6 separate regions of the Homo sapiens genome follow, and regions 2, 3, 4, 5 and 6 are each linked to region 1. The links come from fine-mapping of genetic effects on gene expression. A gene starts in region 1. Each other region holds a variant in brackets. All regions are shown on one strand. Distances are between the middles of the regions.

The links.
Region 2: its variant is fine-mapped to the expression of ECE1 in whole blood (TOPMed, PIP 0.98).
Region 3: its variant is fine-mapped to the expression of ECE1 in whole blood (TOPMed, PIP above 0.99). The same link has a PIP of 0.9 or more in blood mononuclear cells.
Region 4: its variant is fine-mapped to the expression of ECE1 in whole blood (INTERVAL, PIP above 0.99).
Region 5: its variant is fine-mapped to the expression of ECE1 in whole blood (TOPMed, PIP above 0.99). The same link has a PIP of 0.9 or more in blood mononuclear cells.
Region 6: its variant is fine-mapped to the expression of ECE1 in T cells (TOPMed, PIP above 0.99).

The regions. Positions count from the first base shown.
Region 1 is chr1:21,288,181-21,292,180 of GRCh38, forward strand. ECE1 (endothelin converting enzyme 1) reads right to left here and starts at 2,283. Exons shown (of 19, transcript NM_001397.3): 1 at 2,184-2,283; 2 at 1,890-1,976. The coding sequence starts at 2,234. RefSeq lists an enhancer at 727-1,288 and silencers at 1,965-2,134, 2,185-2,364.
Region 2 is chr1:21,209,863-21,213,862 of GRCh38, forward strand. No RefSeq gene overlaps it. Among named protein-coding and RNA genes, the nearest start is that of EIF4G3, 35 kb to the left of the region's middle. The variant G/A (reference allele first, on the strand shown) is at 2,353.
Region 3 is chr1:21,331,693-21,335,863 of GRCh38, forward strand. It overlaps a transcript of ECE1 not described here. Among named protein-coding and RNA genes, the nearest start is that of ECE1-AS1, 40 kb to the left of the region's middle. RefSeq lists an enhancer at 2,684-2,903. The variant T/A (reference allele first, on the strand shown) is at 2,577.
Region 4 is chr1:21,259,587-21,263,586 of GRCh38, forward strand. ECE1 (endothelin converting enzyme 1) reads right to left here. Exons shown (of 19, transcript NM_001397.3): 5 at 685-806. LOC124903872 (a long non-coding RNA gene) reads left to right here and starts at 2,497. Exons shown (of 3, transcript XR_007065530.1): 1 at 2,497-3,438. RefSeq lists an enhancer at 1,854-3,053 and a silencer at 2,590-2,884. The variant C/A (reference allele first, on the strand shown) is at 2,172.
Region 5 is chr1:21,323,396-21,327,395 of GRCh38, forward strand. It overlaps a transcript of ECE1 not described here. Among named protein-coding and RNA genes, the nearest start is that of ECE1-AS1, 32 kb to the left of the region's middle. RefSeq lists an enhancer at 322-882. The variant G/T (reference allele first, on the strand shown) is at 1,687.
Region 6 is chr1:21,337,283-21,341,282 of GRCh38, forward strand. It overlaps a transcript of ECE1 not described here. Among named protein-coding and RNA genes, the nearest start is that of ECE1-AS1, 46 kb to the left of the region's middle. RefSeq lists an enhancer at 1,219-2,161. The variant C/CT (reference allele first, on the strand shown) is at 1,662.

The DNA.
Region 1 (4,000 bases):
TGTATCCATTTGGGGACAGGACACTAACTCCAACCATAGACAACAGCGACGTGACCCCAGGAATGTCTCTAACCTCTCTTTGTCCCTCACCTTTATCATCAATAATGTGGCCACGCCAGCCCTTACTTCATGGGTCATAAAACAATAATCCTAGCAGGCTGCATATAATATGTATGACATCCACTTTCTCTAACATCCATTTCACAGTGAGGCCATCACCACTGAAAGAGATTAAGCCACTAGCCCAAGGTCGTGAGTGGAGTAAGAACTCAAACCCGGGTCGCTGGCTTCAGAGACGGGGCTCCTCCTGCTTGGCCGGGGGCCCTCCCCAGAGAAATGTGCTATTTCATCTGAAAAAGGTTATACCCCAAACAGGCTGCTGTGAGGATAACAGCAACATGGCATTATTACTTTGCTGTGAATTCTGAAATGCTTTTGTGTTGATATATTTAGACCCTTCTGTGGAAGATGAGACTGAAAAACATTGCTGATTAGATTCTGTTTTGATTTGAGAAGGGAAAAGCACCTGCCCCAGAAATCTAATTTCCTGCTGGCTTCAGCCTCTTAAGAAGAGTCCACTGGGAAGAGGTTTGAGACAGACAGGGTTTGACGTGTCGCTCTCGGATTTTTAGCTCGGTGACCGAAGGCCAGTGGTTGCCCCTCTCAGAGCCTCAGTTTCCACATCTGTAAGTGGGGACAGTAATCCCTACAGGTCTCAGGGGTGTTCCTGAAGGTTAAGCAGGGGTACCACACATCCCAGTGGGTAGAGCCCTTGGGACTGTGAGTTTGGGTCCCCTGGGCCTATGTGACCCTGGAGGAGGAACTCCATCAATGGTGTCTCCCTGCGCTGGGAGGATTATTCCCGCTTCTAAGAGGCGTATCTGAGTGGAGTGGGCCTGGCAACTAAGCGTCCATTCATCCTAAGCTCGCCTTTGGGAAGAGTTGTGTGCCAGTTCACCAAGTGGCCCCAAGATTCTCCCAAATACTTCCCTTGGTCTACCTGGCAGAAGTCCTCCGAGAATTGGGGTGCCCCAGCTCCTCTTTCTACACTGGCTTCTCAAGAGCCAGATCACTGGGTCTCCTAGGGTGTCCGCAGCGTTTCCAGCACCTTCCCACGCACCTGGCTGGCTCCAAACCCCTCCAGCACTGAGGTCTTGGCCACAACTGTCCCAGTGCAGCCCCCCAGGGACGGGAGGGCAGAAAGCAGCCTTGCTCAATGTCCTGTTACAAGGCAGGGACGGGGGTGGGGCCCTCCCCAGGAGTGGGCAGATGGGATGCCCACGGGCGGAGACCCTGGGGAGGGGAGGAATTGGACTTCCTTAGTAGGCTGGAAAAGGGGCAGGGAGAGGGGGCAGAGAACAGGTTTCTGGCCCCAGGAAACTCAGGTATTGGGAGGGCAAGAGGAAGAGGGTGGTACTGCCTCCCGGATAAGGTGACCAACTTTCCCAGTTTGCCCCGGACTGGGGGAGTGGGTTCCAGGGATGCAGGGCTTTCCACGCTAAAACAGAAACAGCCGTAGACTCTGCCGGTAAAGGGCCTGGGCAAGTCCCGGGACATGCACAAACTGTGCCTTCTGTGGAAAGGGAACTGGACCAGTTCGGGTCTCGGGGGTGCTTTCAACTCTGCCACCTGGGCTGTGGCCCCAGAAGCAGGTGGCCGGGAGGCTCTAGGGATGGCGGGGGCAGGTGAGGGGAGACTGGTGGGCTCCGGAAGGCTTCTCAGCGCGGAGCTCCAGCTGCGGGGAGGCGCGGCCCCTCCCGGATGCCGGGACGAGGGAGGGGAAGGGAGGGGAAGAGGCGGGGTAGGTAGGGGCGGGGGGCGCGGCAGCGGCAGCGCGCATGCCCGGGCCCGGGGCGCCTGGACCTCGGGAGGGAGCGGAGGGCGCCTACCTGCAGGCCGTTGGGGTATGCGTCGCCCTCGGAGAGCGAGTCCACCAGGTCCTCCTCGTCCAGCGTGGCCCGCTTGTACGTCGACATCTGCAAGGCCAAATGCAGCACGGACTCCCTCAGCGCCTCCATGGCTCTCGCGCCCGAATGGGGAAGCGGCCCCGACCCTGGCGCCGCCGCCGCCGCGCCCCGCCCCGGCCTGGACACCCGAGACCGAGACCGGCCCACGGAGCGGCCCGCGCGGGGAGGGGTCCCGCCCGCCTCCCGCCCCCGCCCTCCAGGCCGCGCCCGCCTCACCCCCAGCGCCGACAGCAGGGCGGACACCGGGGGCGGCCACACGCCCCGCATGCTGTGCCCCAGACGCCTGGTCCCGCTGCCCGGGTGGCCGGGATGGGATGGGCCGGGCCAGGCGTTGCACCACCTTCGCGGGCGGGGCCTGATCGGTTCGCCGGCGCCCGGTTCCCAACCTCCGGCCTCCCGGGGAGACCCCAAGACCCGAGAGGCCCGGGGGAGATGGGGACCCCTCCCTTCCCCGGAGGTCGGGAGTGGGGGCCCCCAAACTGAAGCCCCTAGCAGGCAGGAAAGGCCCTCACAGTGACCCCTCCTTCGAGAAAATCTTAAGTCCCCCTTCAACAACCGGGTCCCCAGTGGCAGATAACAAAAGTATCAGGAAGGTGCCCTCGATGTGGCCCAGAGCAATCAAGACAGGTTCCCCCCGGCATCAGCCCTTAGGTGTGTCTAGGGGGTTAATGCTAGAAAGACCAGACAAAAAAGGTGGGGTAAAAAGGTAGGTGTCCCCTTTCAGTTCCCCTTTCTAGCTCAGAGGCCTTTAAGCCAGAGTTCGTGAATGAGTTTCAGAAAATTTCAGAGAACTCCCTGACACGGGATGAAAGGAGCTGTGTGTGTGCATTTGGATGGCTGCAGGGTGGTCCGGTGGTCACCCCCGTGCTCAAAGGTGTCGCCCTCCCTGCAACACAAGAGAACCATTGCTCCAGGGGGAGTCAGAAGCCAGGAAGGGGACCCTTCTTTCCCATCTTCCCCCTCAAGACTCGGAGCCTCAGCCAGGTGCCCCCCTCCCCAGCCCCTGAGCCCTCTCCTATAACCCTAGGCAGGGAAAGGGGGCTCTCTCGGATATGAGGTGTTCAGTTAGGGACTCAGGCCCAGCACTGTCCCAACCAAGAACCCCAGAGAGGTCTAACCCAGCAGATTTCCAAAGGACTCTCCGCTTCTAGCAAGGCGGGAATCCCTGCATTTATGCGTACTTTTCAGCTTTGCAAAGTGCATTTCTGCTCATTCCAAATTTGATTCTCACAGTCACACATATGTGTGAATAAACAGGTTTAGAGGGGTGAGGGGCCTGACGTCACAGGGACAGTGAGGGCAATGGCTCCAGATGGTCTCCTGGCTTCCACTCCTGCCCTCTGACAGCCCCCTCAGCAGCCAGGATGAGCCTTTAAAATGAAATCTGGCTGAGGCCAGGCACCATGGCTCGCTCGCGCCTGTAATCCCAACACTTTGGGAGGCCAAGTTGGGTAGATCACTTGAGGTCAGGAGTTCAAGACCAGCCTGGCCAACATGATGAAACCCCATCTCTACTAAAAATACAAAAAATCAGCTGGGCCTGGTGGCATGCATCTGTAATCCTAGCTACTCAGGAGGCTGAGGCAGAAGAATCGCTTGAACCCAGGAGGTCGAGGTTGCAGTGAGCTGAGATTGTGCCACTGTACTCTAGCCTGGGTGACAGAGTGAGACTCCATCTCAAACAAACAAACCACAGAAATCTGGCTGGGTTCAGTGGTTCACACCTGTAATCCCAGCACTTTGGGAGGCTGAGGCAGGAGATCACTTGAGTCTAATTCTAGGCCAGCCTGGGCAACACGGACCCCATCTCTACAAAAAGAAAATATATATATATATATTTATATATTATATATTTTTAATTAGCAGGACGTGGTGGTATGCGCCTGTAGTCCCAGCTACTTGGGAGGCTTAGGTGGGAGAATCGCTTGAAGCCAGGAGGTGGCGGCTACAGTGAGCTGTGATTGCACCACTGCACTCCAGCGTGGACGACACAACAAGATCTTGTCTGAGTAAATAAATAAAATAAAAAAAAA
Region 2 (4,000 bases), 78 kb before region 1:
AGGCATGTGCCACCATGCCTGACTAATTTTTGAATTTTTAGTAGATACTGGGTTTTACCATGTTGGCCAGGCTGGTCTTGAACTGCAGACCTCAAGGAGATAACCCTTCTAAGATGAAGAATACATTGTTGCAGCTGGACCCTCCTACAACCAAGAAAGAGGCACAAGGCCTGGTAGGTCCCTTTGGATTTTGGAGACCATGTATTTCACATTTGGGTATTTTGCTCTGACCCATTTACTGAGTGATCTGAAAAGCTGCTAGTTTTAGATTATTTATTTATTTATTTATTTATAGCTACACTCTCTGGAATGGGAAAAAACTGCTAGTTTTGAGTGGGACTCAGAACAAGAGAAGGCTCTGAAACAGGTCCAGGCTGCCGTGCAAGCTGCACTGCCACTTGGGCCATAGGATACAGCAGATCCAATGGCACTTGGAGTGTCATTAGCAGATAGAGTTGTCTTCAGTCTTCGGTAGACCCCTCTAGGTGAATCACAGTGCAGACCCTTAGGATTTTGAAGCACGGCCCCACCATCCTCTGTGGATAACTACTCTCCTTTTTTTTTTTTTTTTTGACCAAGTCTCACTCTGTCGCCCAGGCTGGAATGCAATGGCGTGATCTTGGCTCAATGCAACCTCCACCTCCTGGTTTAAGCGATTCTCCTGCCTCAGCCTCCTGAGTAGCTGCAGTTACAGGCATGCGCCACTATGCCCAGCCAATTTGTGTATTTTTAGTAGAGATGGGGTTTTGCCATGTTGGCCAGGCTGGATTGTAGGCGTGAGCCACCACACCCAGTTAGCAGAAGAGGATTTTAATAATCAAGTGGGGCCAGGTGCAGTGGCTCACGCCTGTAATCCCAGCACTTTTGGAGGCCGAGGTGGGCGGATCACGAGGTCAGGAGATCGAGACCATCCAAGTTTCATGGGGCCAGGAGTCAAAGGGTAGAAATTAGGAGATTAGGAGTGACTCCAATCACCTTTTTTTTTTTTTTTTAAGGCAGTCTCTCGCTCTGTCACTAGGCTGGAGTGCAGTGGAGCAATCTCGACTCACTGAAACCTCCGGCTCTTTTGTTCAAGCGATTCTCCTGCCTCAGCCTCCCGAGTAGTTGTGATTACAGGCACGTGCCACCATGCCCAGCTAATTTTTGTATTTTTAGTAGAGATGGGGTTTCACCATGTTGGCCAGGATGGTCTTGATCTCCTGACCTTGTGATCTGCCTGCCTCAGCCTCCCAAAGTGCTGGGATTACAGGCGTGAGCCACCGCGCCTGGCCCCCAATCACTTTTATCCCTACTGATGCACTAGCAGCATTTCTGCTTCCCGTCCCCATGACCTTAGGCTCTGCTAGTTTAGAGGTTGGTTCCAAAGGGAGAAATGCTTCCACTAGGCAACACAATGATTACACTGAACTGGAGGTTGAGGCTGCCACTCAGTCGCGTTGCGCTCCCCATACCCAAAATTAACAGGCAAAGAAGGAGGTCACTGTACTGGCTGGGATGACTGGTCTTGATTACTAAGGGAAAATTGTATTGCTGCTACACAACAGAGGTAAGGGAGAGTATATCTGGAATACATGAGCTCCCTTAGGGCATCTGTTAATATAGACAGTCTTTGTCTTACGATGATTTGACTTATGATTTTTTGACTTTATGATGGGCAAAAGTGATACACATTCAGTAGAAACTATCCTTTGAATTTTCAATTTTGATCTCTTCCTGGGCTAGCAATATGGAGTACAATGCTTTCTCATGATGCTGGGCAGTGGCAGCGACCGCGGCTCCAAGTCAGCCACACGATCACGAGGGTAGACAGCTGATACTGTAATCTACAGTGTGCTGTATTTAATAAATTACGTGAGATAGTCAACATATCTAGTCAACAAAATAGGCTTCGTGTTAGATGATTTTGCCCAACCGTAGGCTAACGGAAGTGTTCTGAGCACATTTCAGGGCAAAGCTATGATGTTCAGTAGGTTAGATGCATTAAGTGCATTTTCAATTTAGGATATTTGCAACTTAAGATGGATTTATCAGGGCCAGGTGCAGTGGCTCACACCTGTAATCTCAGCACTCAGGCCAAGGCAGGCAGATCGCTTGAGCCCAGGAATTCGAGACCAGCCTGGGCCACATGGTGAAACCTTGTCTCTACTAAAAATACAAAAAAATTAGGCAGGTGTGATAGTGCGTGGAGGCTGAGGTGGGAGGATCACCGGAGCTTGGGAAGTTGAGGCTGCAGTGACCAAGATTGCACACTGCCCTCCAACCTGGGTGACAGAGTGAGACCCCATCTCAAAAAAAAAAAAAAAAAAAAAAAAGAAGATGGATTTATCAGGACATAACCTCATTGCAAGTGGA[G/A]AGCATCAGTACCACGTCCTGTGACTAAAGTAAACAAAAGCGACAACAGCCCAGTTCAGGCAGGACTATTAACGGTCCAGGAATTTCAGGAATGAAGGTTTGGGTCACCCCACCAGGCAAAGAACCATGACCAGATGAGGTGCTTGCTAAGGGAAAAGGAATATGGAAAGGGCAGTGGAGGAAGAGGAATTATAAAGACCAGCTCTGACCACATGACCAGTTGCAGAAATGAGGACAGTAATAACTATGAGTATTTCTTCCTTATTTTGTTATGAATGTTTGTATATAGATTAGCCAAATATTTTTGTTTTCTTCCCTCTTATTCCCTTATCATCTAACATGAGATATATTAATAATTTAGGCTGGGTGTGGTGGCTCACGCCTGTAATCCCAGCTTTTTGGGAGGGCAAGGCAGGCAATTGCTTGAGGCCAAGGAGTTTGAGACCAGTCTGGGCAACATGGCAAAACCCTGTCTCTACAAAAAATACAAAAAATTAGCTGGGGGTGGTGGCGTGTACCTGTAGTCCCAGCTACTGGGGAGGCTGAGGCAGGAGGATCACCTGAGCCCAGGAAGTGGAGGCTACAGTGAGCCGAGATTGCACCACTGCACTCCAGCCTGGGTGATAGAGTGAGACCCTGTCTCAAAATAAATAAATAAATAAAATAATAGTAAACTTTATATTATGGTATTTAGGTTACAGGATATCAAAAGAGAAGAATGAGCATTATCCAAGGATTTTGCATCTTCTCCTGGGGAAGGGTTGGTGTGTTTTTGGTTGCATCCAGGATAGCTGTATCATGTTAGGTTTAAGTATGACTTTGTTATTGTGTGTATTTGGAAATGAAGTGTGGTTTAAGGATATCAATGAGGAAAATTAAAATTCTTCCATGATTTTTAAAACTTTTTTCTTTAGCCTGAGTCTAGTTGTCTTTCCTACTAGATTGATTGATTGATTGATTGATTGATGGAGACAGACTCTCACTGTCACCCAGGCTGGAGTGCAGTGGTGCAATCACAGTTCACTACATCCTTGACCTCCTGGGCTCAAGTGATCCTCTCATCTCAGCCTCCAGAGTAGCTGGGACTACAGGCACGTGCCACCACACTCTGCTAATTTTTGTATTTTTTTGTAGAGACAGGGTCTTGCTATGAAGCTCAGGCTGGCCTCAAACTCGTGGGCTCAAGCAATCTTCAGGCTCCCAAAGTGCTGGAATTACAGGTATGAGCCATTGCACCCAGCTTCCCTATTTTCTTTTAAAGAGATGGAGTCACAGCCTCCCTTTTTTTTTTGACAGGGTTTCACTCTGTCACCCAGGCTGGAGTGCAGTGGCGTGATCTCAGCTCACTGCAACTTCTGCATCCTGGGTCAAGCAAACCTCCCACCTCAGCCTCCTGAGTGGTTGGGACTACAGGCATGTGCCACCACACCAGGCTAATTTTTGTATTTTTAGTAAAGACAGGTGTCTTGCTGTGTTGCCCAGGCTGGTCTCGAACTCCTGAGCTCAAGTGGTCCTCCTGCCTCGGCCTCCCAAAGTGCTGGGATTACAGGTGTGTGCCACTGCACAAGTGCCCCCTTTATCCTATACCAATTCCCACACAGACACAGAAGTATTTCTTGCTGTCTAATCCATTCTAAGTGTTCAGTTT
Region 3 (4,171 bases), 44 kb after region 1:
TGTCCCTCAGTTTTCCCACCTACAAAACAGGAATAACAATAATAAGTACCTCACAGGGTTGATGTGAAGATTAAGTAAATTTATAACATAAAATATTTAGTGCTGTACCTGGCACACAGCAAACACTCAAGAAACGCTATTATTATTACTGCTAAGACTAGTAAAACACCGCGGGCAGGAAAGAATGGAGGATTACTGAATAAAGCCCTAATGCAGACAGAAGTTACTACTATGTCACTCCCACAAGGAAACATCAAACATCACCACTCCCAGGAGCCTCCTCAGAAGCAACCTGCCAGCCCTGGGCTGGTCATTCTCTGATAGTATCAGGGCCGTTTTGTCCCACTTTCCTCCGTGGACTTGAGCTCACTAAGGGCAGCCTTACTGCACCCTCCCCCACCCCATCCTCAGCACCCAGTGGTGTGCAGCAGGGTTGTGGGAAATATCTGCCAGACAGACATGCTTAAGATGTGGCCCGAGTCCCTTCCCCTTTCTGGAGAGGCCTGCTTCACTGGGAAGGCAACTCTCCAATGCCATAGTACAAACCCCTAGAGAGCCTGCATCCCTTCCAGTCCCATCCCTGCCAGACACTGGGAACGCAGAGGTGAAAAGGCAGGGGCTCTGCTCCATCAGAACCCTGCCTAGTAATAAATCAGGTGACATTTATTAGGCACTTAGTGTACTGCAGGCACTGATCCTGGCACTTTACAAGAATCTCGTCGCTTATTTAAACAACTCTCTAAGCTTGGCACTATCCTTATTCCCATTTTACTTATGCAGAAATAGAGGCTAAGAATTAAGTACTTTGCCTGAGGCTGCTCCAGTAAATGGCAGAGCTGGGATTCAAACCCAGGCAGGCTGGGCCAGAGCTTGAACTCTTGATCTGTGTTAGTCCAGGGGGAGGGGGGAGGAGGGGGGGAGAGAGATAGGAGAGAGAGGGGAGGGAAGGGGAGGGGAGGAAACAGGAGGAGAGCGGAGGAGACAGGAGGAGAGGGGAGGAGAGGGGAGAGGAGGTGAGGGAGGGGAGGGGAGGGGAGGGGAGGGGAGGGGAGGGGAGGGGAGGGGGAGAAAGATTTCAGTCCAAGGTGACCCTGAGAGAAGTCAGTCAGGCGAGGAGTTAGAGGGAAGGGGGCTGCGGGAACACAGGATGGGGGTGGGGTGGGCGGATGGTGAAGTAAGTTTCTAAGAACAGCTATGGAAAGAGAAACAATTGGGACATGTGTCAACACTGTTACAATATTAGTGCCATCCAATTCTTGGAGTCTAGCACCAGATATGCACCATGCATGCTCTGAGTGCTGCTCCTCTCACTGAATATTTGCAGTCTTCCTGGGAGGGACTTATCCTCACTTCACAGATGGGAAATCCAAGGCTCAGAGAGGAAGACACGCCTGCTAAAAGTCCTTGGTGACAATTCAATGGCAGATCCAGGGTTCAAGCTCAAGTTGATCCCATGGCCCTTGGTCTTAACCACTAGGTCACACTGAACAAACAGGTATTGGTGGTGCGTGGTAGGGATCTGATGCAGAAGGTGGGGGGAGCTGCCCAGTTTTTCACCCGGGACCTGCACTTAGTGCCTCCGCCTCCCCCACCCCTATTTGGGCTGAAGGCAGACAGCACAGCTCCAGCCCACCAGAGCCGTGGGGGGGGCGGGGGGGTGGGTGGGTAGTAGTGTGGCCTGGCTAAGGAGTCTCTCAAATATAGTGGGGAAATAAAATAAGTAGCAGAGAGATGGGCCAACCATGGCCCATTCTCATCTTCCCTCCCTAACCGCGTTCATCAGAAAACAGCATATGTGAGGGCCAGCACGCAGCCATTCTTTCCGGTGCTTCAGGAGGTTAGGATGACAGAGCCACGGGCTGGGCGCAGTGGCTCACGCCCATAATCCCAACTTCTTTGGGAGGCCGAGGCAGGCAAATTACTTGAGGTCAGGAGTTCGAGACCAGCCTGGCCAACATGGTGAAACCCCGTCTCTACTAAAAAATACAAAAGTTAGCCAGGCATGGTGGCACCTGCCTGTAATCCCAACTACTTGGGAGGCTGAGGCAGGAGAATTGCTTAAACCCAGGAGGTGGAGGTTGTAGTGAGCTGAGATCGTGCCACTGCACTCCAATCTGGGCAACAGAGCGAGACTCCGTCTCAAAAAAAAAAAAATGACGGAGCCACAAAGGTAATAACAGCTCCCACCTCCCAAGGGCCAACTCCGTGCACCGTCCTGTGAGCTTTACAACCTGTCATAAATTATCAACCACTTTTCACAACACCACTATGAGAAAGGTGCTACCATCATCCCATTTCATAGAGGAGAAAACCGAGGCTCAGAGATGGTCACTCACCAAAGGTCACCCAGCTGGGACTAAGTGACAGAGCTGGGACTACAACCCACATCTGTCTGGCTCCAAAACCTCCATACCTCCATCTTATCTAGAAAGAGTGCTGGATGAGGAGTCTAGAATCAGGGTCTAAGTCCTGCCTCTAACCTGCTGTATAGCCTCAGGTAAGTCTCTTTCCCTTTGTGAGCCTTGGTCTGCCCTATGAGGAAGTTGGCCTAGATGACCTCCAAGTCCCACCTCCTG[T/A]GACTCTGTGAGCTCTCATGCCCTCCTCTCTCTGGCTCCCAGCCACCACACCGGAAGCCCAACAGGATGCCGAGTAACCACCCACTGAACACTCAGGGGCGAAGGAAGATGAAGTGCCGCTTTCTCATGGCCATCTTCCACCAGACCAGCCCAGGAAACAAGGAACCACAAAGCCACAGGATTCCCTCCAGCGTGGCCGTGTGAACAGCAGCCCTGGAGCAGAGGGGCTGGGCATCCCCTTGCGGCCATCACTTCCTATGCCCTCACTTCTCGGCAGGGTGTGCGGAAGCGAGGGAGGCAGGCTCCAGCTCAATGCCCTCTGGCTCTGTTTCTCTGGGTCCCCAGGGGCTGGGACGGTGGGAACTGGTCACTCTGGGAGAATCCCAAGCCCACCCCGGAAGGCTGAGTTGAAGTGGAGGTTCAGACAGGTCTGTCTGGCTCCACAGGTAACTTTTGCCCACTGTGCTCTGCTGCCAGCAAGGTCTCGAAGCATCTGGGATGCCTGGCTACCTCTCTCCCATCCCTGAAGTAGCAGCCAAAATCCCAGATCCTGCAGAAACCTACGCCTCCTCAGCCTCAGGACAGACGAATATCCTGAGGCCCGCGCTCCTGCCTCCCTCCTGCCCCCTACAGTCCATGCTCTACACAGCAGCCAAGGTCTTTCCAAACAGAAACCAAGCCCAGTCGCCCCTCAACGTGGGGTCCTCCAGTGGCTTCCCACCACTATTAGAACGAAATGCTGACCCCTGCCCCACAGACAAGGCTGTCCATGGCTTGCCCCTCCAGGCCCACCTCTCCCTAGCCTTCCCTCCACCCTCCACTGCCTCTGCCCGGCCACACCAGCGTTCACCCCCTACATGTGCCAAACTTGCTGTTCCGGCAGCCGGGAACTCTCATCTCCCCCGCCCCCGTCTTTGCCCGGCTGCCCCCTCCTCAACCTTCATGTCCCAGCTCAGACATCACCTCCTTTCCTGGCCGCTCCTCTAGAGCGGCCCCCTCCCCTCACAGCCACTCTCCACCACATCGCCCTGTTTTGTCTCCTTTCTTCTCTCGGAGCGATCCTTCTGGTGGGTGGCTTTGCCTGTTTGGTCTCCAGCTTCCTCCCCTAGAGTGCAGCTCCTTAGGGGCAGGCATGTGACTGCTCCATTCTCTTCTGTCCCCACAATGAGGCAGGGCCTCCTTGGGTGCTCACAACCCTGAAGATGAGGACGCTGCAGCCCTGAGAGGTGGATTGAGCCGCCCAAAGTCCCAGAGCCAGGGAATAGCAGGGTTCAGACCGAGGGCGACCTGATGCCAAGCCTCAGTGGGTGGGGGGCTCTCACGGCTGGGGGCCTACTCTGGAGGGCTCTCACCCAGGGTGGACAGAGTCGCAGTGAGGCTCTTAGGGCGGGTACCAAGAATGAAGGGCCCACCAGCTTTCCCAAATGGTCCTTCTGCAAGCTACAGGCCAGCTGAGCTCCTGCCTGGGGTGGGTGAGACCCTGGGGGTGAAGAGGCACCAAACACCAGGAGCAAAGGCTCCCAAATGAGGGAGACCACAGACACAGGGAGCTGGGAAGCTTCGACCCACCCAGTGCTTGACGGAAGGGGAAAGTG
Region 4 (4,000 bases), 29 kb before region 1:
CCAGAGAGGAGGGGACTAGCATAGTCCCCAGCGCATGCAGCCACCAACCCTGCTGCAATGCTTTCCTGGAGCCAAGCTAAGAGGCAGGGCTGTCCAGGGAACACGAGGCAGGCAGAAAACATCCACAGACACCTACTGTCTGCACCAGGAAGCCTCAGAGTCTGGGAAGTGCCCAAGAAAGCAAGAAAGATGTCTTCCCCTGCTCAGGAGTAAGCAGGTATAGGAGAGTGGCCTGGGTCCCTGCTCACGGGGAGGGCTCTGGTTCTGGGCCAAGACTCTCTGTGGGTCTTTCTGGAACAGGCACACACCCCTCCACACACACAAACATAACCCCTGAGGAAAAAACAGCAGCAACGTGGAGGAATATTTTCCCTCTAAACATGGCCCCCATCCCACACACAGATGCACAGAGAGACACACAGACAGATGACAGACATCTACAACAGATGCTGACACACACTCTCACACAAACACATGCACAGACAACCCACCCACGCAGCTACGCAATGTGCTCACACTCACATGTGCTCTCGCACACTCGCTCTCTCTCTTTCTGTCTTTCTCTTGGTGCTACCGGCTGGACGTATGAGGTGGGCCAGTGGTACCAGAAGGCTGGAGTGGAAGCCAGGGGGCGGGCAGGTGGCATGGGCCGGGGCTTGGGGAGGGAGAGCCCGAGGCACTCACCCTCTCAATCAACTCCATTAGAGGTTTGGCCCTGAGCTCCTCGATCCTGGTCTCGTTCATGCACGCACGGTAGTATACTTGCGCCTTTCTCTCTGCCTCGCTCACGCTGGCCGTGGAGTTTTCTGGAACAACAGACAGTGGAGTTTGCAATGCGGCCCCACTTGCCCACTGGGTGGCTTTGGGGCAGTCCCTCTTTTCGGAGCCTTGGTGTTCTCAGCTGCAAAGGAGCTCTGACATCTGCCTGTCGGAGTGGCAGTGAGGAATGCCGTCACCGTGAGTATGTGAGGGCCCCTGGACAGAGCCTGGCAAGCTGAAGGCGCTCCCGAAATTTTGCTGACTGCAAAGAAAAAGAATCGACCACGTTTCTCTCCCTCTGCCAGTTGGGTTCACAGACGTGTCCCCGGGTTGACCGCACGTGCCCACCAGCAGGACAGTGTTCTTCCCCTGTGGATAACGTGTGGTACGAACACCCCTGCCTGGTGCATGGGACAGAGGCCGGTCTTGGTTTTCAGATACCAGATGATCTTTCTTGTGATAAAGACTGAAGTTGGATGGAAACTCAAAAGGCTCATTCATTATGAATTTACTTTTTGCTTCCTCCTTGGAGGGGCTAGGCACGTTCACCAGGCTTACAGCCAACTCCTGGGGCCGTTTTCCACCGCCCTTGCCAACTCCAGCAAGCAGCATCTCCCTCCTGCAGTGGCTTCTCAGACCTTACCCCAGACACCCGGAGATTCTGTTCCCTTCTCCCTCACCTCAGTGCCCTGGTCCAGATGCCACCTGCTAAAGGCAATGCTCCGGTGGGTGCACCTGGTGAAGATGACCGCTTCCTGCCACTCAGGTCCACAAGGGACCCACTATATACTGGGGCTCTGTGCATGAGCCTTCTTCTCAGAGCCCTGCTCCAGGCCATGCCAGATACTCTAAACCCCTCAATTCCATCTGTCCCTCTTGCCTCCTCTGGGAAACTCACTGCTCCAGACACATTCCCTCATTTCATGTTCATTTCTCTCTGGCCCTGAAGCCCCTTCCTTTGCCTCCTTCAAAGATCCCTCAAACCCCAGCTCCTTCACAAAGACTTTCCTGGCAGAACTGTATCCATCCACCCTCTGACCAGATACTAGATGCTTACTCTATGCTAGGCCCTGTGTAAGCTGTGGGACACAAGAGAAAACATCCCTGTCCCCAAGGAGCTTCTGCATGGGACCCTGTTAAAATCCTACTCAACCTCAAGGCCTCTACGGGGACATCTTTTTGATGAAGGCTCTCCTAAGATGTTCATTCCCAAAGGCCCTCACCGCTCTGCATACCTGTGTCCACCATTAGACCGTGAGCTCCTTGGGACAGAAAGCGGGTCTTATTTATGCCTATAAAATTCAGAGCCCAGCCCTGTGCCTGGCACCCAGCAGAAACTCAAAGAAATGACCACAAGACACGACAGTGCTATGAACAACGCACGTGGCTATGGAACACAGAGAAAAGTCACT[C/A]CCTTCGGAGGGGTGGGGAGAAGAGGGGTCTCCAGAGGGCGTTCCATTTGAGCTGGTTCTGAAAGCTGAAGTTGTTCACCAGGTGGAAGGGAGGGGAGAGGCCACTGGGTTGCGCGGAGCAGGACAGGACAGTGTGGGGACAAGCGGGGATGCCTGAAAGGGCAGGCGGACTGCTTGGAGAAAAGAAAGCTGTCTGGCGTAGTCACTTGGAGCAAAGGACATGAGTCACTTCCTGGCCAGTCTTTCATCAGCTTTCCCAGCCTCACCCCGAGAGCTCCCTGCCCCCCGATCCTCACCATAAATAGCACCATGGCTTTCACTGATCAGAGCATCGAGCCCCGGTCTTGCTGACCTCAGGGTGATGGCCCTGAAAGGGGGACGGGACCAGCTTGGGGCTAGTCTGAAGGAAGACACAGAGACAAGAGAGCCCCTTGAGAGACAGGGTCAGGGGCCTGAACGAGGGGCTATGGAGGGTTCGTACAGCCCTGGAGACCATGGGCTACTGGGTTGCTAAGTGCTGGAAACACCTGCATGTCCCCCAGGCACCACGGCAGCTCTGAGAAGAGGACTCTGTGAGGGGAGGGCGGAAATGGGGAAGCTGGGATACAGAAGATCAGGGAGAGCAAAAGGGGAGTGCCTCGCCCCTCCCAGGGGCCTCGTTCCTATGGCAACACTCCCAATGAAGCTCTTGGAAGAAAAAGCAGGAGAATCGTCATTGCTCCCCAGGCCTCAGATGCAGCGTCTCACCCTCCACATCTGGCTCCGGCCAAAGCCCTGAAATGCCAGGGCCAGCGCTGGGGAAGGCACTCTGTGTGCTCTGGCCCATGAGTGAGCCTGGCATCTCCCTCCCCCAAGGCCACAAAGATAAGAGGCCTAAAGAACAGCTCCCAGGAGCAGCCTGGCTGTGCTAATCACAGCGAGTTCCGAGGCCCTCTTCCCTAACACCTGTCTGCAAGCCCCAAATTATCACCGGGAGGGAGAAGGAATGCCTCCTTCAGACACAGCCTCCCTTGCTCCTTCGCTGAGAGGCTGCCACAGGCCAGGTTCAAACTCCATTCCTTTGGCCCCCACCACCTGGGTGCCACGCTCACTTGCTTTCCCACATTGTTTACAAAGTTCCTTTTGCCTGGCAACCGCCAGGCCGGGTGTGGGGGACAGTGGGCAACATAACTGGAGGCCTGTCCACGTGAGGCATGCAGCGTGGTGAGTGAGGCAAACGGCAGCCAAGGACTCGCGGGAGCATCTGATTACGCACGGGGTGAACGCTGTGAGAACATCCCAGAGGCCTTGAAGGGGAGGGCGGGAGGAGACCAGGGAAGCCAAGCAAGGCCCCGGGGAAGCTTCGTTTGAGCTTCGGGCTGAAGGATGAACTCAATGTGGAGTAGAAGCAGGGGCTGTGCCTGGGCTGCCCCTCCGCCATTCCATGTCTTAGTGGTCCCTGCAGCCCCAGAACCAGCCCTGGATAGGGACCTAGTAGGCCCCTAGCAACAGGTGGTGGCTGCAAGAACAGAGCCCAGTGTCCCTTTCTGGAGAGGAAGGACATCTGGAAGATGAGAGGGTGATGAGGCCGGATGCCCACCTAAGGTTTCCTTTTTTTATATTTATTTTTTTTTTTTTTGAGACAGAGTCTCGCTCTGTCACTAGGCTGGAGCGCAGGGGCGCAATCTCGGCTCACTGCAACCTCCACCTCCTGGGTTCAAGTGATTCTCCTGCCTCAGCCTCCCGAGTAGCTGGGACTACAGGCGTGTACCACCACGCCTGGCTAATTTTTGTATTTTTAGTAGAGACTGGGTTTCACCATGTTGGCCAGGATGGTCTCAATCTCTTGA
Region 5 (4,000 bases), 35 kb after region 1:
TTAAAATCGTGTGCCTACTACGTGTTAGCACTGTTCTCGACAGATATAGCAGGAAACAAAACAGACAAAATCCTTGCCTTTGGGCCAAGTGCAGTGTTCATGCCTGTAACCCCAGCACTTTGGAAGGCTGAGATGGGAGGATCACCTGAGCCTGGGAGTTCGAGACTGCAAAGAGCTGTGATTGTGCCACTGCACTCCAGCTTGGGTAACGGAGTGGCACCCCGTCCCAAAAAACTAAAAATAAAATAAAATAAAATAAAATAAAATAAAATAAGCCTTGCCTTCATGAAACTTATATGCTAGTAGGAGACAGAATAAATAAGACAAATCAAATATGCAGCATGTTAGACTGTGGGAGGGGCTAAGGGGAGCAATGAGGTAGTGAAGGGAGACAGAAAATGGGAGATGGGGGCAATTTTCTTTCTTTTTTTTTTTTTTTTGAGACATAGTTTCACTCCATTGCCCAGGCTGGAGTGCAATGGTGCAATCTCGGCTCACTGCAACCTCCACCACCCGGGTTTCAAGCTATTTTCCTGCCTCAGCCTCCTTGAGTAGCTGGGATTACAGGTATGCACCACCATGCCCGGCTAATTTTTTTGTATTTTTAGTAGAGATGGGTTTTTGCCATGTTGGTCTGGCTGACCTCAAACTCCTGACCTCAAGTGATCCACCTGCCTCAGCCTCCCAAAGTGCTGGGATTACAGGCATGAGCCACTTCACCCGGCCTGTTTTGTTTTTAAAGAGACAAGGTCTCACTCTGTTGCCCAAGCTGGAGTGCGGCCTTGACCATAGCCCATGCAGCCTCGACCATAGCTCATGCAGCCTTGACCTCCTGGGCTCAAGCGATCCTCTTGCCTCAGCCTCCCAAGTAGCTGGGACTACAGATGTGCACCACCACACCCGGGCTCATATAGCTTCTTAACTGGGTGGGCAGAGGAAGCAGGGGGCAGAGGCCCATCCCCAAGGGAGAAACCATCCATCAGTGCGGGACTGACAGGGACACTCCACCCACTCAGCCCAGTGTGCTTCTGTCCAGGGAGACTCCAACGGCTGCCACAGCTGTGGTTTACTGACTTCAGGTCTGACTGCCCTCTCCAGAGCTGCCCTAGAATCCCTTTGTCTGTGGCTGAAGTGTCCCTCAGAGCTGAGGAACAAGTTTGGAGAGGACCAGGAGGGGCTCTCCCCACCCCCGCCCCTTTCCCACATGAAGAGAAACATTTCAGGGTTGAAAAAATGACTCATTCTCCCCAGAGAGGGCTGGAGCTGAGCTGAGTCAGGCAGAAGGAGCCCGCGGGTCACTTAATCGGCCTCCCTGCTCTGGCAGAGATGGCTCTGGGCCCCAGGAAGCCAGGGACAAATGGAGGCGGAGGTGGCAGAGATAAGCAGCTAGTGGAGTGTGCCAGCCTCTCCTTCCCCAACCGAGTGTGTCACTGGGCGTCACCCAGCACTGCTCAAGTTGAACCTGATGCAGAAGAAAAATTCCTCTGGACTTTCCTGAACGAGCTTTATGGCTGACTCACTGCCACCTGGAGCCTGCAAGAAAAGTCACAAATCACGAAAGAAGGAGAAAAACAGTTCTCGTTAAGCCATGTCTTCAATGGAGGTATCAGAGGTCGCCAGGAGGAAAGCACACATGTTTTGTTGTGGGTTTCCTTCTCTAAAGAAACACGTTACACAATAGAGGGG[G/T]GTTGAGACTGGTTGCAAAACTGCAAAATCCAATTTTGTGTACTGGATTCAATTTCTTCATTAGCTGACACTAAACACAGAGACGGGGCCCTTGTGACTAGATGAACCATAAACTGGCTCCAGGACCACCAACCTGGTACCTGATGGCTTGTTTCTGCTCCCCACTCTTTCCCTCCATGCATCTTTCTCTGAGCTTCTGCTCAAGGCAGGTGCCAGGACAAGCCAGCGTCTCGAGCGGTTCCCCTTCAGCGGTGAGAAGTAACGTCACAATTAAGGGGCAAGAGGGGCCAGAGGACAGAACAGTGCCAGTTCCTCATCCAGATTGAAATTTGCTTCCAGCTGCCTGTCCCCACACCAGAAAGGGCACTCCCTGCTCCCCATGCAGGCTTCTCATCCTCTTTTGCTGGCCTCCTCCCTCCTCGCTGTCCCTGGTCTTTTTCAGCCACAAGCAAAACACACTCAGCCTTGAAGTCAGATGCTCTACAGAAGCCTGCAAAAACAGAGTCAGGAGTTGTGTGGCCTTGGCCGAGTCACCTCACCTCACCAAGCCTCAGCCTCCTCACCTATTAAATGGGGACACAATAGGACCCACTTCCTTGGAGCTGACTGAGGTATGAATTGAGTCAATGCATTCATTGCTCAGCACACAGCTTAGCTCAAAGTTAATGCTCAATAAATTGTGGTTCCCACCTCCTGCTCCACGGAGCAGACATGAAACAGGTACGAGAAGCAACGAGAAGGGGCGGCAGCAGAGCATCAACACACAGGGAGTCCTGCCTACTGTCCCGACGCCACCCAGAGGCTCAAGGGGTGCCCCGGCTGCTCTCCGAAGCTGCCGGTGGCACTTTCGCCAGCCACCTTGTTTCCAAACTTGCTGCCAGCTTCCCCTAGCGCAGTGATTTCCACAACGGAGCTCCCGGCTGTGGGAAGGGGGCTTTCTTTGACTTGTCCTAAAATGGCCTCACCTGGACCCAGTGGGGTGTGGGGACCAGGGGGCTGGGCCTGGACCTATGAGCATGTTTCCTGCCTCCTCTCAGCCCCCATCCTTCTGCCGCCCCACGTTCTCAGCCAACAATAGCTGCTTCCCAGACTCAGCTGCCACACAGCACGAGCTCCCTGAGCAAAAATACCCATGCGGGGGAGGGTGGGGAGGTACAGGAGGGGCCACAAATGGGGAGGGCTGGGAGAAGGGGTGGCAGGATCAAGCTTGTCTCTTGAGTGCCTACTGTGTGTCAAGCTGAGAAGGGTGAAGCCCCTGGGGGTTAGAGAAACCTGGGAGACCGTGGGGTGTGTGTGTCGGGGGTGCTGGTCTCTAAGACAGCAGAGCCTCCAGTCCCCAGAGAGGGATCAGACCCAGGTCCAGGGTCTAAGGGTGAAGAAGGGGTCCAGGGAGAAGAAGGTGCCTAAGCAGGAAGCAGGTCCTAGAACCTAGTGAGAAAAAAGGGGGGCCTGAACCCCAAAGAGAGATCCAAATCTTAAGGAAAATAGGGGCTCAGGTTCGAGGAGATGAGGTTCATAATAGGGGGGTTATATTTCTGGTTTCAGGAGGGGGATGGTTTGGAGCAGCGTAGGGAGGTGGGGCGAGGCCTGCAGAGCTAAGAATCCATTTAACTGAGCAGCATCTCAGAGGTCTTAGGTGCCAACTGGGGTGACATCAGGGAAGAAAACAGAAATCCTAAGACAGCAGCCAGCAGCCTGCAGTTACGGAGCCTGGATGGGGAAGCAGCTCCCCGCTGCTGGGGAGACCCCACTGAGCACAGAGAGGGTCTCCCCAGCCTTTGGCCCCTGCGTCTCCTTTCTCTTCATGACAGGGCATCAGCTCGGGTCCCTGGAAACACCCCCGCTCCCCAGCAAGGGGCTGTGTTTGCACAGTGGCTCTGGCCCCTAAACCCCACCTCTGTGGACTCCGTCAAAGCCTGGGGAGGGCAGGGTCCTGAGGGCCCTGGTCTCGCTGGGGTCGCATAGGTCACATGGAAAGAATTTGGAGGTCACAGCACTGCCCTCCCTGTAGATGCTTCAAAGCACCCCACTCCCTTGAAGCTGCCAGACTCTGCAGGCAGCAGGGCATGGGGAGGGACGAAGCCACCAGGAGACTGGGAAGAGGGACTCTGCCAGAGCAGCTGCCAGGAATCTGGGGCCTGGAGTCCATGTTTGGCTGGAAGGCCCTGGGATGGGAGGCTCCAGCTTAGCGTCTGGCTCTAACGCTTGGACTGTGTGACTCCGGTGGCTCATGCAACCTTTCTGGGCTCTGTTTTCTCATTTGTCAAAGCGACGGGCTGATCCCCTGCCCCACTCCAATCAATCACCAGGCCCT
Region 6 (4,000 bases), 49 kb after region 1:
CAAACCTCAAACATTCCTTGCTGTCCAAAGCTGAAGAAAACCAGGCACAAAAGAGCACACATGAATGAATCCACACAGAGAAAGCTCAAAACCAGGCCAAACTAGAGGGCCAGTGGCCACCTGCTGCAGGGGACTGATGGAGGAGGCACACGGGAACTGTGGGAATGGTTCACACTTTGGTCCAGGTAGTATGCAGGTGTGTGCATTTGTAAAACGTGAGCTGTACAAGATATGCATACATTACTTAAGTAAATTATACTATACCACAATTTTTAGAAACGTACAATCTCTGCCCTCATGAGGTCCAGTCTGGCATCCTGTGTCATCATCGTAACAGTCATGACAATAACAGCAGGTGACACCGACTGAGTCCTCTGTATGTGCCAGCCCTCAGCTGGGCTACTCTGAAACAGGATCTGATTGAGCGTTTCTAACTACTGGGCAAAATACTGCCCCAGGAGCTCCATATTAGAGACAGGAGAATAAAGCTTAGAGAGGTGACACGCTGTCCAAGGTGACAATGCAAAAAGTGAGGATGCCAGGTTTGAACCTGGGCCCATCAGTCTCCAAGGCCCACTCCTGCTGCACGGGCAGATCCCGCCTCCCTGCCCTCTCCTCCCCACACTGCCTGCTCAGATGTGGCACCTGGAGGCAGCCAGTCCTCGCCCCTCGCCCCCTCCTCTCCAGTGCTGGAAGGAACAGCTCATGTGTGTAATGGACTCGAAGCTTCTGTGAAAGAGCTGCTGAGGAAATGAGTCCTTCCTTCCCCTTCTGCCCCCTCTGCCCTCCCTCATCCCTCTCATGGCCACATAGCTCTGAGGACATTTCAGCCCTGGACCTCCGCCCAATAAGAAGGGACTCCAATGGCCAGGCAGCTGGGGGTGTGTGTGGTATTGACCAAGGAGCTTTCTCAACCCCTGGACACCCCAGCCCAGCCTGTGGCCTCTCAGAGGACCAGGAGGACATGAGGTTAGAGTCCCCACCCTTGGCTCCAGTTTCCAAGTGACGCAACCAAGTGTCTGGATTCAGAGAATCGCAAAATGTTTATCTGGAATCACAACCACCACCATGACCATTTAATCAAACCTTATCCTGTGCCAAGTGCTACAAACATAGCTCATGAATCCTCACCAGCAAACAAAATGGGTACTGCTAGGCTCTCATTTTACAGAGGAAGAAAGTGGAGCTCAAAGGGGTTAGGTGCCTTGCCCCAAGTCTCACAGTGAGGAAGTGGTGGGGCTGGAATTCAAACCCAGATTTGCACAACTTCGAGTCTATCCTCTGAATGAGAGTATTATACTTGTCATCCTGCATGTCATTACTGAAGACGGCCCTGGAGTCAGTCTGCTCCAGCCATGTCATTTCACAGATGGGAAGACTGAGGCCCACGAAGGAAGACCGTGGTTCAGGAGGACAAGGATTAGTGGCAGAGCCTGGGCTGGAAGCCACCCTGGCCTTGCTTTCAATGACCAGATCAGAGCCTGGGAGCGGGCCATGTGCAGCTGGATGGGCAGCTGGAGGGAGTCAGGCAGGGAGGTGGGAGGCTCTGCTTCCAGGCAGAGGTAAATATTGACATGACTGTGTTTACGCTGTAACCTAACTCTGCCTGGCTGCTGCCCCAGGCCCACCCTCCTGCCTTCCCAGCCAAGGAGGGAAGGGAG[C/CT]TGTGGGAGGAGGATGGGGAGAGGAGGCTTCTGGGCCAGGGGCTGCTCCTCCTGCTTAGAGGGCTATGTGGTCAGAAAGGCTGGGACATCAGGTGTTAGGGGTGGGGGTTAGTGGAGACCCAGGCCAGGGGACCAGGTGGTGCCAGACAGGGAGGGGCTGTTATCTGAGCTGGGGAGCTGGGGATCTCAGGGCGGGGGACTGGGCTGGGAGTCACAAGGCCTGAGTTCAAGTTCTAGTTCTGCTACTGATTGGCAGTGGGAATCCAAGAACAGTCGGTGAATGGGGAAGAAAAGGTCTAACTGTCAAGTGCGGTGCAAAGGTGAACAATAAATAACCAGCATTTGAGCCTGGCCAGTGTCCAGCCCCAGTGAGCTCTCAACGCCTCTGGCTACCGGCTCAACAGTCCTATCCCTGTCCCAGTGGGCTTTCCCAGGAAGGCCAAGTTTCTGCCAAACTGAGTGGCAGCTTGGGACTGAAGCCATAATAATCTAGAGGAATCGGGGAGCCACTGTCTAGCTCCCGTCCCTAATTCCCTAAGTGACCTTTGAGCCTCAGCTTTTACAACTCTGAAATAAGGCTCACCCTCCTCCCTGGGGTTGGTGTGAAGAGCAGAGATTACATTTAAGTGCCAGGCACATAGTAGATGCTCATTTTGTCTCTCAGTCTTCCCACTTGTCAAACAGGGGCCTCGAAGTTGGTGGTTCCTAATCCCCTTTTCATACAAGCGCTCTAGCGTCTTTAGAAGGCCCAGAAGCCAGGCCCACCTCCCTGATGTTAGATCCCCACCTAGCCGATTTCCTGAATGCTCTCTAGAAACTTGCTCCCCTGTTTACACCTCCCCCCAGGAAGTCCAAAGGGGCCCTGTTGGGAGGAGGGAGCCATTCCTAGGCTTGTCAGCCCACCAAGACAGGCCTGGGGCATCCCAGCCACTCTGCCCTCAGGGGCCCAAGGAAAGGGCAGGCCCCAGGTCCTGGACTCCAGTGCCACCCTGACAGTGGGGTTCCGCCAGCACTGGTTGTTCATTAAACTGTGCCCCTCAGACTATTAACTCTTCAAGGACAAGTGAACCCCCCTCCTAATTTTTTATGTGTCCAAAACTTGGCGTCTAGGAAGCATTCCACCAAGTGTTAACACCTCTTCTGGGAAGGCTTCCCTGATACACACCTATGGGCAGGATGACTCTGGAGCTGCATCCCCAGGTTGGCACATAGCATTTTCTACCTTATTTCAGAGCGATCTGGGAACTTGTTCTTTCTCCTCTATTAAAGGCTCTGGAGACCAGGGCCCTCGGCTGGTTATCTGCCTGAAAGGATGAGGGGAAGGGTCAATACATTCAGGAGAAGGGGCTGTCTGGGACCTCTGTCTGGGGCCACAGCCTCCTTCTGTCTTCACTGACTGCTCTGGGCAGCATGCCAGGGGCGTGGTTTGGGCTAGAGGAGGACTGGATGGTGCCTGCAGCACCACCTTTCTCCCAGGGCCACTTCAGGTGCCTCCTCACTGGTTTCCCAGCCTTCGGCCTCACTCCTTCTACTCAATCACCACAAAGCAGCCTGTGACCATCTCAGAATGCAAATCCGACCGTGTCACTCCCCTGACTCTAAACTCCTCAGTAGGCTGGGTGCGGTGGCTCACACCTGTAATCCCAGCACTGTGGGAGGCTGAGGCGGGTGGATCACTTGAGGTCAGCAGTCCAAGACCAGCCTGGGCAACATGGCGAAACCCGGTGTCTACTAAAAAAATACAGAAGTTAGTCGCATGGTGGCACGCCTGTAATCCCAGCTACTCGGGAGACTGAGGAGAATCACTTGAACCAGGGAGGCTGAGGCTGCAGTGAGCTGAGATTGCACCACTGCACTCAGCCTGGGTGACAGAGCAAGACTATGTCTCAATAAATAAGTAAATTAATTAAATTTAAAAAATAAACTCCTGAGTGGCTCCCCACTGCCCTAAGGATTGAGCCCCAGGTCCTTCATATGACCATCCCTGAGTGCACCCTCCGGGCCACCTCCTAAGCACAGTCCTCCGTGCCTCCAGATGAACCATCCCTGAAGGCACAGCGGTCTGTACTCTTGCACATTCTGCTCCCTCCACCCCCCGCCCCCCAACACTCTTCCCAGTCCCACTCGCTCTTTAGGTTATGATTTTAATGCCATGTGCTCAGGGAGCCTTTTCTGATCCTCAGGTCAGGTTCCCGGTCCAATCCCACAGCCCCCCGCGTGTCTCCCTGACAACAGTAATTGCGCTTGTAATTTCCTGCTCTGTATCTGTCTGCCTGCCTGTCCATCAGACTGTGGGAGAGAGAGACCTATCAGTCTCACTCACACTGACCACGGCCCCC